Regions from separate parts of the Homo sapiens genome. Here region 2 is linked to region 1. The links come from fine-mapping of genetic effects on gene expression. A gene starts in region 1. The other region holds a variant in brackets. All regions are shown on one strand. Distances are from middle to middle.

Region 1 (5,383 bases):
GAGACTCCATTTCAAAAACAAAGCAAAACAAACAAAAAACAACAACAAAAAAAACCTTTTATATATATATATATATATATATATATATATAAACACATTGCACCAGTTTTTTTTATTATTTTACTTTTTAAAATGTGGCTTATAGAAGACAAATTTACATTATATTTCCATTAGCCAGCAATGTTCTGGGAAAAATAATATAAATAAAATGTATATAATGAAAAACAAACTTTGGTGAATTAACCTGACTGGAACATAGCTAAGGATTCACAGGAGAGAAAAATCAAAGTTAGGGCTGAAGAGGTAGAAGGGATAGCAGTATTCAGGATTTGAATGAAAAGGGATTTCAGACTGGACAGACTGGATTTAACATCTCTAGAGATGCCATTTTTGCCTTTGTTGCCACTTTTGCCTTTTAGAGACCATAAAAGTGACATTTAAGAAAAATCAACCTGCCAACGGTACACAAATGGAAAGAAGTGGAAGAGCAAAGATTTTAGAGATTTGCCATTTTAGAGGTACAGGTACCATGATTGCAAGAAAAATTCTGGTCCTTGCCTTGATTCTAGGGAGTTGATACTCAATATCATCTGAATCTTTTTTGCTGAGTCTACAGCTTTTTTTTTTTTTTTTTTTTTTTTTTGAGACAGAGTCTCTCTCTGTCGCCAGGCTGGAGTGCAGTGGCGCGATCCCGGCTCACTGCAGCCTCTGACTCCCCGGTTCAAGTGATTCTCCTGCCTCAGGTTCCCGAGTAGCTAGGATTACAGGCATACGCCACCACGTCCAGCAAATTTTTGCATTTTTAGTAGAGCCGGGGTTTCACCATGTTGGTCAGGATGATCTCGATCTCCTGACCTCGTGATCCGCCCGCCTGGGACTCCCAAAGTGCTGGGGATTACAGGCGTGAGCCACAGCGCCCGGCCTGAGTCTACAGCTTTTTAAAATCTGAATTCAGTTACTTTCTATGTGGAAAAGAATGTACCCAGCAGCCACAAAAGCAATTTGCCTCACTATACATATAGCAACTGGGTGTGTGGAAAAAACCAGCATTTGTTTTTTTCCAGCATAAATAGCAAGAACAATCTTTCCTGATAGTGCAACTTTTTTGCCTAAAGGTTTTGGAGTTCTTCAAAGCCATCGTGGCATCAAAGACTACTGGAACGAACACACACACACACACACACACACACACACACACACACACACCATCATGGCATCAAAGACTACCTAAAAACAGCCCCCCTCCCCAGCCATCATGGAATCAGACTACTTCAACACGCGCGCGCACACACATACACACCCATGACATCAAAGACTACTTAAACACGCACACGCACGTACACACACCCCAAGCTATCGTGGCATCAAAGACTACTTCACGCGCGCGTGCACACACACACACACACCATGGCATCAAAGACTACTTACACACACGCCCCCTAGACAGGTTTTTCTTTTTCTTTTTTGAGACGGAGTCTCGCTTTGTCGCCCAGGCTGGAGTGCAATGGCGCGATCTCGGCTCACTGCAACCTCCGCCTCCGGGTTCAAGCGATTCTCCTACCTCAGCCTCCTGAGTAGCTGGGGATTACAGGCGCGCGCCACCACGTCCAGCTAATTTTTTGTATTTTTAGTAAGAGACGGGGTTTCGCCATGTTGGCCAGGCTGGTCTCGTACTACTGACCTCAGGTGATCCGCCCGCCTTGGCCTCCCAAAGTGCTGGGATTACAGGCGTGAGCCACCAGGCCCGGCCTCTAGACAGGTCTTTCAAAAGTTTCAATTATTAACCTTCTTAGAAAGGTCATTAACCTAACGGGCAAAGCAAGACTCAGGTTTTGACGAATCAAGACTGATTTGCTTGTATTTTGCAATAGCTATTGATTATAAATAATACTTCCAGGCACCTTTCCACCCCTTGGCCATTTCTCGTTCTCCTCTACTTTGCTCCTTCTCCCCATCCCCGAGGCAGTAAAGTTCGGGGAGGCCCGGGAGCGCCTGGGCCACGTGTGCGCCCGCGCGGCTGCCTAGAGGCGCTGCTGCAGGGAGGCGGGACAGAGTTTCGCGGCTCGCACGTGGCCGCGAGCTCACGGCCTGGGGGTCAGGGAGACCGTGAAGGGCCCGGATCCCTGTTACTCACCCTCAGCTGTCGCCATTATCCTAAGTGGGCTGAGGGCTGCGACCGCGCCGGGAAGCGAGGCAGAACTCTAGAAAAGAGGGGTGGTCAGAGAGCTTCGCTGGGCGGGGAAGGAGGCGGGGCCGCGCGACCCTGCGCCACTCTTTTCGAGCTCCGCTACAGCCGCCTAACCCGGAGGGGTATGGGCGGAGACTGAAACGCGGATATCGGACGAAACAACGCCCCACTGGCTTCCCGCCGCGCAGGCGCAGAGACGCGACCCCGCCTCCGGGCCGCCCCGCGCTGGCGCAGTGCCCGGACAGGCGAAAAGTGGCGCGCACTGGCGGCCCCTCCCCACTCTGCGGAAGCTCGCATACCCCGGCCCCTTCTCGGCTGCGGGAGCGACTCAGAAGTTGGAGCGTACCAAGTCTTGACGGCCTGGGGGAAGCATGCAGGGAAGGGCATATGAAGGCTAAATGCTCTGAAAGAGAAATGAGGTTAAGTCCGTTACTCCCATTACGCTACTGTTGGGTGCTGGAAAATAACGGAGATTTCCACGTGCAGCAAATACAGCTTTCCAGGCAGCTCTTAGGGGAAGGCTAGCTCCACCCTACAGCATCCGTGACCCCGCCCCTCAGCCGCGGGACCGCCCCTCCGCCCTCGCTCGTTGGTGGACTCGGAGGGGGAGGAGCAGGGCTGAGCTGGCCACGCCACCTAGGGACAGCGCGCGCCGCCGCAGTAGCTGGGGCCACCCTCGGGAAGGAAGAGCCTGTCGCGAGCGCGAGCTTCTGAGCTCGACGGGCCGAGCTGGCAGCTGGTTGGTGCTTACACCTTGGCCGCAGCGGCAGGTCCTTCCACGTGCTTTCGGCGGCGACATGGAGCTGGAGGAGTTGGGGATCCGAGAGGAATGTGGCGTGTTCGGGTGCATCGCCTCAGGAGAGTGGCCCACGCAGCTGGATGTACCGCATGTGATCACTCTGGGACTCGTGGGGCTGCAGCACCGGTGAGCAACAGGGTGGGGGTGGCGGGGGCGTGCGTCTCCATCTCTCGGAGCCGCTTCCCGCAGTCGGCGTTCTCATGAGCGCCCGAGGGCCCGGGAGGACCGACCTCTCCGACCTAAGCCAGTACCTGCCTGTGGCGTCGACCGGGTTGCCTAGGCGTGCACGAGGGGCACCTCGCTTCCATGAACTTTAGCCTGTCCTGCCCACCCTCCCAGCCACTTATGCCTTTTAGGGGCTCTCTCCCTCCCCGCCCCCCGGTGTGTGCACCCATCCAGAGGCTGGCCAGCTTGTAAACCGCCGGTTTGCTTGGTCTAGCTGGGTCAGGGCTCCTCCCCGACTGCAGGCGGGTTCTAGTCTCCCGGAGCCTGTGGCTGCTCCTGTAATAGGCTAGTGTGGCGTGGCGGCCAGTCCAGGTCCTTCAACACCTAAAGGTTTTCGCGCGGGGCCTCCAACCACCACAAGCTTTTGTTTGCAAGGGCAGAGCTATTGAGCAGATTATGGGTTTGAAAGTAGTTATCGCTATGGGAACTTGAGGATGCTAGACTTCAGACCCAGGGAAAGATGACTAGTTGATGTTGAGAATGACTACTGGTAGTAGATCTCACATAAATTAAATGGAAATAAGCCAACCATAGGGAACAGTGCATCTGGAAAAGATTCATTGGTAGACGTCTTGCCTAATGAATGAAAACGTTGGTAATAACATGACAAAAATTAACTCCCTTCTTCAAAAGGGGGACAGGGGAGTAGTGTCTCTATGCCAAGATCCATACACTTGATTTTGAAAAATTGGGAGATCCTTTCGAGTTAAAAAAAATTACTTTGCTTCGGTGATCTTTCCTTTTCTTACTACCTGACTTAACTGGAAGTTGATATAAATTATTACACTAGGATAAGAAAAACAAACCTGGGTTTGATATTCTTACTGAAAGTATTACAGTTTCCATAAGGCAATACAGTGGTAACAACTTACACTACAGTTAAGGAACTTGGCAATAACACGTAACAGCAAAATGGGTGCAACACGTATAAACGCATTCCAAAAGATTAGCTTTTCCTCCACCAAACTTAAATTAGAAGTATTTTTTGCTGTTTTCATTGTCCCAGGTACTTCAATTTCAGTTTCACATTTTGTGTGTTCCTTGTTTACTAAAGAGCTGAGAATGTGGGAAGCATCAAAAAGAATATTTTTAACTTGCGTAGCTCCAATCTTGGATAATTGTGGGTTGACCATAATAGATTTCTTGTTTTTTTTAAAAAAAGTTTATTGAGAAAATTAGTTACGTAATCCAAGGAGAAAGTAAACTCTTGATTATGTGGTAGTTGTGAGCAACATTAGTTTGTAACATTCTTAGAAACTATGGCCAGGCGCGGTGGCTCACGCCTGTAATCCCAGCACTTTGGGAGGCCGAGGCGGGCGGATCACGAGGTTAAGAGATCGAGACCATCCTGGCCAACATGGTGAAACCCCATCTCTGCTAAAAATACAATTAGCTGGGTGTGGTGATGCGCTCCTGTAGTCCTAGCTACTCCGGAGGCTGAGGCAGGAGAATCGCTTGAACCCGGGAGGCTTAGGTTCCAGAGAGCAGAGATCACGCCACTGCACTCCAGCCTGGGCGACAGAGCGAGACTCCGTCTCAAAAAAAAAAAAACAGTTGTTATTTTGGATACTCTGTCATGGGGGTGAGGGAGAATCTAGAGGTCTTTAGGGTTGCCTGGTGGTCTGTAGAAAATATGTATGAACTGTACTTCACTATATTTACTTTTTTTGCCAAAGTTATTCAAGAAATTTTCATCCCCCTTTCTCCTTCCCTTTAAATGTGTGCCTGAAGAAAAAGAGGCTTTTTTTTTTTTTTAACTTACATGTTAGCACTGGTTGGAGTTTTAGTACCCAGTTTAGGAAAATACTTGGTATTCATGGTTATAGGTTTTTTTTTTCTTTTTTTTTTTTTTTAATGAATACCATTTGATTCCTGGTTACATATATCTGTTTTCTATAGTTGCTTTTCTGTGAAAGAATTGTAAGATTAAATAATACCAGATAAGGGCAATAATGATGTGATTATGTGGTTTTGAGGAACAAATGTATTACTGAAAAACAATTTAACATTTCTCTTGTGTAGGCATAGAATCATTAAGGTGCACAAAGAGGGCTGGTTCTCACCCATAATCAATTCAAAATTTTACATGAGCTAAAGTGCTCATCCTTTGGGAGGACTGATTCTGCTTGGAAGAACAATGACACTCCCTTATGTCTTGGAAATACAATTAT
Region 2 (5,383 bases), 92 kb after region 1:
CAAGGTCAAGGACTCCTGCCCTGTCTTCTCATCCATAGCAGCAATTTGGGAAAAGCAGTTTAGTTGTTAAGAGCATAGGCTCTGGAGATTGACTTCTTAGATTCAAATCTTGGTTTGCCACATATGAGCTGTGTAATTTTTCCCCAGTAATTTAGTCTCTCTGTGCTTCAATTTTGTTATCTATAAAATGTGGTTATAATAGTACTTACTTCACTGTGGGGATTAAATGAATTAATAGATGTAACATACTTAGAATAACGCCTGACACATAGTAAATGCTCAATGAACATTGACTATTAACGTTAGCACTTCTTAAACACCTTCTATGCACTGGGCATTTGTTCACATTATCTGAATTGTTGCAATAACCCTGGAAGTAGATGACTCCACATTCTGCAGATGAATAATTTGGGGCTTAGCAACACTGGGTGATTTAAATGCCCAGTGACAGTCGTGATGAAATCTGAATCCAGATGTGTCAAAAATCTCTCTCCACCACAGTGTACTTTATTATTTTTTCAGTAGTGAAGCGCTTCTTAAAAATAAGTATGTAAAAAAATTAGTGAAGTACTTTTAAAAGATAAGATACACCTACTAAATAGATATTTTACATAAGTGATTACTAATTCAGTTTCTGCTTTACATTGCTAAAATGTAAGCCAGATGAGCTTATCATAGAGCCTATGTATAAGAGGAGGACTGAATATAAATTGCATGCTGTAGGCTAAAGAATTATTTTCCAGTAATATATCTATATCAAATCTTTTGTGCTTTGTTTCTTGGTAGGCTGTTATAATGGATTAGTTTATGTTCTGAAAAGTAATAGTGGAGAAAAATACTGGATGTTTACTACTGAAGATGCTGTCAAAAGCTCGGCAACCATGGATCCAACCACAGGACTCATTTACATTGGATCTCATGACCAGCACGCATATGCTTTAGATATTTATGTAAGGATTGACCTCAAATTAGCTGGGCATGGTGGCGCATGCCTGTAATGGTAGTTACTCCAGAGGCTGAGGTGGGAGGATTGCGTGAACCTGGGAGGTGGAGGTTGCAGTGAGCCAAGATTGTGACAGTGTATTCCACCCTGGGTGACAGAGTGAGACTCTATCTCAAAAAAAAAAAAAAAAAAAGAAAGAAAATTCACCTCATTAGTCTAATACCATAAGCATAGAAGCATTAAATTTCAATACTTAGAAGAAGAGTGAGTAACTGTCAGGTGTAGTTGAGCCTTGGAACAGGTATTAACTATTTCCCAAGCTTGTGTGGTCTGGGAAGAATAAAGCATTAATTAAGTCTTAATATCTTAAGACCTTTTTAACTTCATTACCAAATTTACCACAAATAAGTGTGCTACTCAGAGTTTTGGAATTAAAGAATTTAGGATTATCATCTTGACAGTAGAAAAAAATGACGAAGATATCAATAAGATGTTTTAAGACCTGATTACATAAAAATTAAAATGTTATGTAAGAATTATGAAATTAAGCTGGGAAAATTTTTGAAATAAATGTAAAAAAAGTGGAAATTCATTTATATTTATAAGTATTAATGAAAATAAAGATCAAATACAAATTAATAAGACAAATGTAGAGCAGATAGAAAAATAAACAAGGGACATAAATACACAGGACCCCAAAGAAGAGACGGCTAGTAAATGTATATAAATAGTTCATGAATTTAATAATCAAAGGAATGAAAATTAAAAACTCTTGAGATAAACAAATGGTGTTAGATTAGAAGACATATTCATCATAACATTAAATGCTGATGAGAGTGGTAAGAGGTTGTAACTAGTGAGGCCTCTAATGAAAACGATTTGACCATAGGTAACAATATCATATCCTTGATCCAATAAAATTCGTTTTTTAGAAATCCTGGCAAAAATAATCAGAAACATAGTCAAATATATGCATTAAGATGCCTATTTCTAAGTTGTTTATAATACCTAGAAATTCCAAAAAACGTTCAATGATAAGGTAGAGAGAGAAATTATTTATGTTCATATGGGATATTATGGATTAAAATTATATTTAAATCATTTTACAAAATCAGTGAGCAAAATATGATACCAAGTTATATATTCAGAATGATCTCAGCTATATTAGATCGTGTGTGTGTATATACACATATTCTCAGATGTGTGCGCCCAGACACACACACCCATACCCCAAAAAGATCAAATGAGAAAATGCTAAAATGTTAACACTGGTTGTCTCTGGGTAGTGTCCTTTGTCTTTATACTAATCTGATTCTCCACAGTAGGCATGTACTTTATACTAAAGATAAAAACTTATATTAACTAAACAGACATAATATCATGAAGGGTAGGTTATATGGATTTGTTAACCATCAACAAGAACAAATTAATTTGTTTTCTTATTTGCAGAGAAAGAAGTGTGTTTGGAAGTCAAAATGTGGAGGAACTGTCTTTTCCTCTCCGTGTTTGAACCTGATTCCACATCATTTGTATTTTGCTACATTGGGAGGACTTTTACTGGCTGTAAATCCTGTAGGCATAAAATAATACATATTGATTTTATTACTTTTCTTTAAATTTGTAAAATTTTTGCTTTGAGCTTTGAAAGTTTGAGTAGTTTTCAGTTAATTGTAGTAGTCCACATACACCAAACTGGAATTCATTAAAAATGATTGACATGAGATCTAGAAAGATAAGAAAATTTAAATTCCTGTATATATATAT[ATATG/G]TATTTTTTTGTTTGTTTGTTTGTTTTTTGACAGAGTCTCCCTCTGTCACCCAGGCTGGAGTGCAGTGGCGCAATCTCAGCTTACTGCAACCTCTGCCTCCCAGGTTCAAATTGACAAAATTTTTTTCATCATATTAAGAACTTTATGTCCATCACAGGGATAACTCTTAGGTGCTAGTTTTTTCTTTGCTGCTTTTATTGCAAGCCTTTTTCCTAGTTCTCATAAATAGCACTGATTAATTTTATATATGTATACCAGCTTCATTTATGTCTGCATACCACTACAGCATTTTCTGCTATTTTAGTTCTAACCCTAGGAGATGTATGAGTTTGTTTTTTAAAGGGTAACTGATTAGTAGGATGACATAAAATGCTGTGAATTGCTTTTTCCTGTGACAGGCTACTGGGAACGTTATTTGGAAACATTCCTGTGGAAAACCACTCTTCTCTTCCCCACAATGTTGCTCACAGTATATTTGTATTGGCTGTGTAGATGGGAATTTACTCTGCTTTACTCACTTTGGAGAACAGGTAATAGAACTAGAAATTTTTTATATATACATTTTTATATATATATAAATGTATATATAAAAAATAGAACTAGAAATTTTATATATCTATAGTTCTATTTATATTTTTTAAATTTACTTTTCTTAAAGGCAAAGCAGATGGTGACAACTGAAGTAACATTTTAAACATCATTATTCAACTCACGGTGTTGAGAAGTAGTTCTATTTTAATTGTGAAGCCATGGATTTCTTAATTTTTTAAAGAAGACATAGTAGATTTAAAAGATTTCTACCCAAACATTGTTACACTTCTTTTGTCATCTCCCCCAATTTTTAAAATATTACCAGTTTTTAGCCTGTTTTATTATAACTTCTATTGAGATTATGAAAGTTTAAATAAAACCCCTGGATTCTTTTAATTGATACAGACATTTGTACCTATTTATGGGGTATGTATGTGATATTTTGTTACAATCATAGACTGTGTAATGATTAAGTCAGGGTGTTTGTGGTGTCCATCACCTTGAGTACTTATTATTTCTATGTGTTGGGATCATTTCATGTCTTCTCTTTTAGCTGTTCTGAAATATACAACATATTGTTGTTGGCTGTAGTCATCCTACTCTGCTACTGAACATTATAACTTATTTTTTCTTACTATATGTTTTTACCTATTAACTAACCTGTTTTTATTTTTTTATTAGCCAACCCACCCCAACTTCTTTTTTTTTTTTTTTTTTTTTTTTGAGACAGAATCTTGCTCTGTTACCAGGCTGGAGTACATTGGTGTGATCTTGGCTCACTGCAACCTCCGCCTCACGGGTTCAAGCAATTCTCCTGCTTCAGCCTCCCGAGTAGCTGGGACTACAGGCGCATGCTGCCATGCCTGGCTAATTTTTGTATTTTTAGTAGAGACGGGGTTTCACCATGTTGCCCAGGCTAGTCTCGAACTCCTGACCTCAAGTGATCCACCTGCCTCAGCCTCCCAAAGTATTGAGATTACAGGCATGAGCCACCACGCCCGGCCCCCAACTTCTAATATTCCATTTTCTTCCTCCCTGAGATCAACTTTTTTAGCTCTCACATATGAGTGAGAACATGCAATATTTGTCTTTTTGGGCCTGGCTTAATTTCACTTAAGATAAAAATCTCCAATGGCTGGGCATCATGGCTCACGCCTGTAATCCCAGCACTTTGGGAGGCCGAGGTGGGAGGATCACAGAGTCAGGAGATCGAGACCATCCTGGCCAACATGGTGAAACCCCGTCTCTACTAAAATACAAAAAAAAAAAAAAAATTAGCTGGGTGTGGTGGCACATGCCTGTAGTCCCAGCTACTTGGGAGGCTGAGGCAGGGGAATCGCTGGAACCCGGGAGGTGGAGGTTGCAGTGAGCCAAGATTGTGCCACTGCACTCCAGCCTGGTGACAGAGCGAGACTCTGTCTCCAAAAAAAAAAAAAAAAAAAAAGATAAAAGTCTCCAGTTCCATCCATGTTGCTGCAAATGACATGATTTCCTTGGTTTTTATGGCCTGATAGTATTTCACTGCATCTATATATACTACATTTTCTTTATCCACTCATCCATTGGTGGACACTTAAGTGCATTCCATATCTTTGCTCTTGTGAATTGTGCTGCAGTAAACATGGGAGATGGGAGTGCAGGTTGTCTCTTTGATATACTGATTTTTTGTCTTTGGGTAAATAGTAGTAGGACTGTTGGATATGATAGTTCTCTTCTTAGTTTTTTGAGAAATCTCCATACTGTTTTCCACAATGACTACCCTAATTTACATTCCCACCAGCAGTGTAAGTTCCTTTTTCTCCACATCCTTGCCAGCATTTGTTATGTTCTTTTAGTAATAGCCATTTTAACTTGGTAAGATGATATCTCATTGTGGTTTTGATTTGCATTTCCCTGATCATTAGTGATGTTGAGTGTTTTTTTCATATACCTGTTAGCCATTTGTATGTCTTCTTTTGAGATATGTCTATTCATCTCCCTTGCCCACTTTTTAATAGGATTTGTTTACTGTTGTGTTGTTTGAGTTCCTCATATTCTATATATTAGTCCCTTGTTGGATGAATAGTTTGCAAGTATTTTCTCCCATTCAACAGGCTGTCTCTTCACTCTGTTGTTTCCTTTGCTGTGCAGAAGCTTTTTA

Direction of the effects. Alleles are on the strand shown, and positions count from the first base shown. SD is a standard deviation of normalised expression in the study named.
In carriers of allele ATATG in region 2, the expression in testis of the gene that starts at base 2,203 in region 1 tends to be higher than with G alone (small effect, 0.15 SD a copy in GTEx).

What was found. PIP is the estimated chance that this variant, and not a neighbour inherited with it, causes the effect.
Region 2: its variant is the best candidate, but not a certain one, in a credible set for the expression of PAICS in testis (GTEx, PIP 0.53).

The regions. Positions count from the first base shown.
Region 1 is chr4:56,433,080-56,438,462 of GRCh38, reverse strand. It overlaps PAICS (phosphoribosylaminoimidazole carboxylase and phosphoribosylaminoimidazolesuccinocarboxamide synthase), which reads right to left and starts at 2,203. Exons shown (of 9, transcript NM_001079524.2): 1 at 2,135-2,203. The coding sequence starts at 2,150. It overlaps PPAT (phosphoribosyl pyrophosphate amidotransferase), which reads left to right and starts at 2,848. Exons shown (of 11, transcript NM_002703.5): 1 at 2,848-3,113. The coding sequence starts at 2,986. RefSeq lists enhancers at 1,233-2,116, 2,964-3,143 and silencers at 2,244-2,533, 2,674-2,873.
Region 2 is chr4:56,340,694-56,346,076 of GRCh38, reverse strand. AASDH (aminoadipate-semialdehyde dehydrogenase) reads left to right here. Exons shown (of 15, transcript NM_181806.4): 12 at 787-950; 13 at 2,393-2,515; 14 at 3,111-3,242. Among named protein-coding and RNA genes, the nearest start is that of AASDH, 44 kb to the left of the region's middle. The variant ATATG/G (reference allele first, on the strand shown) is at 2,708.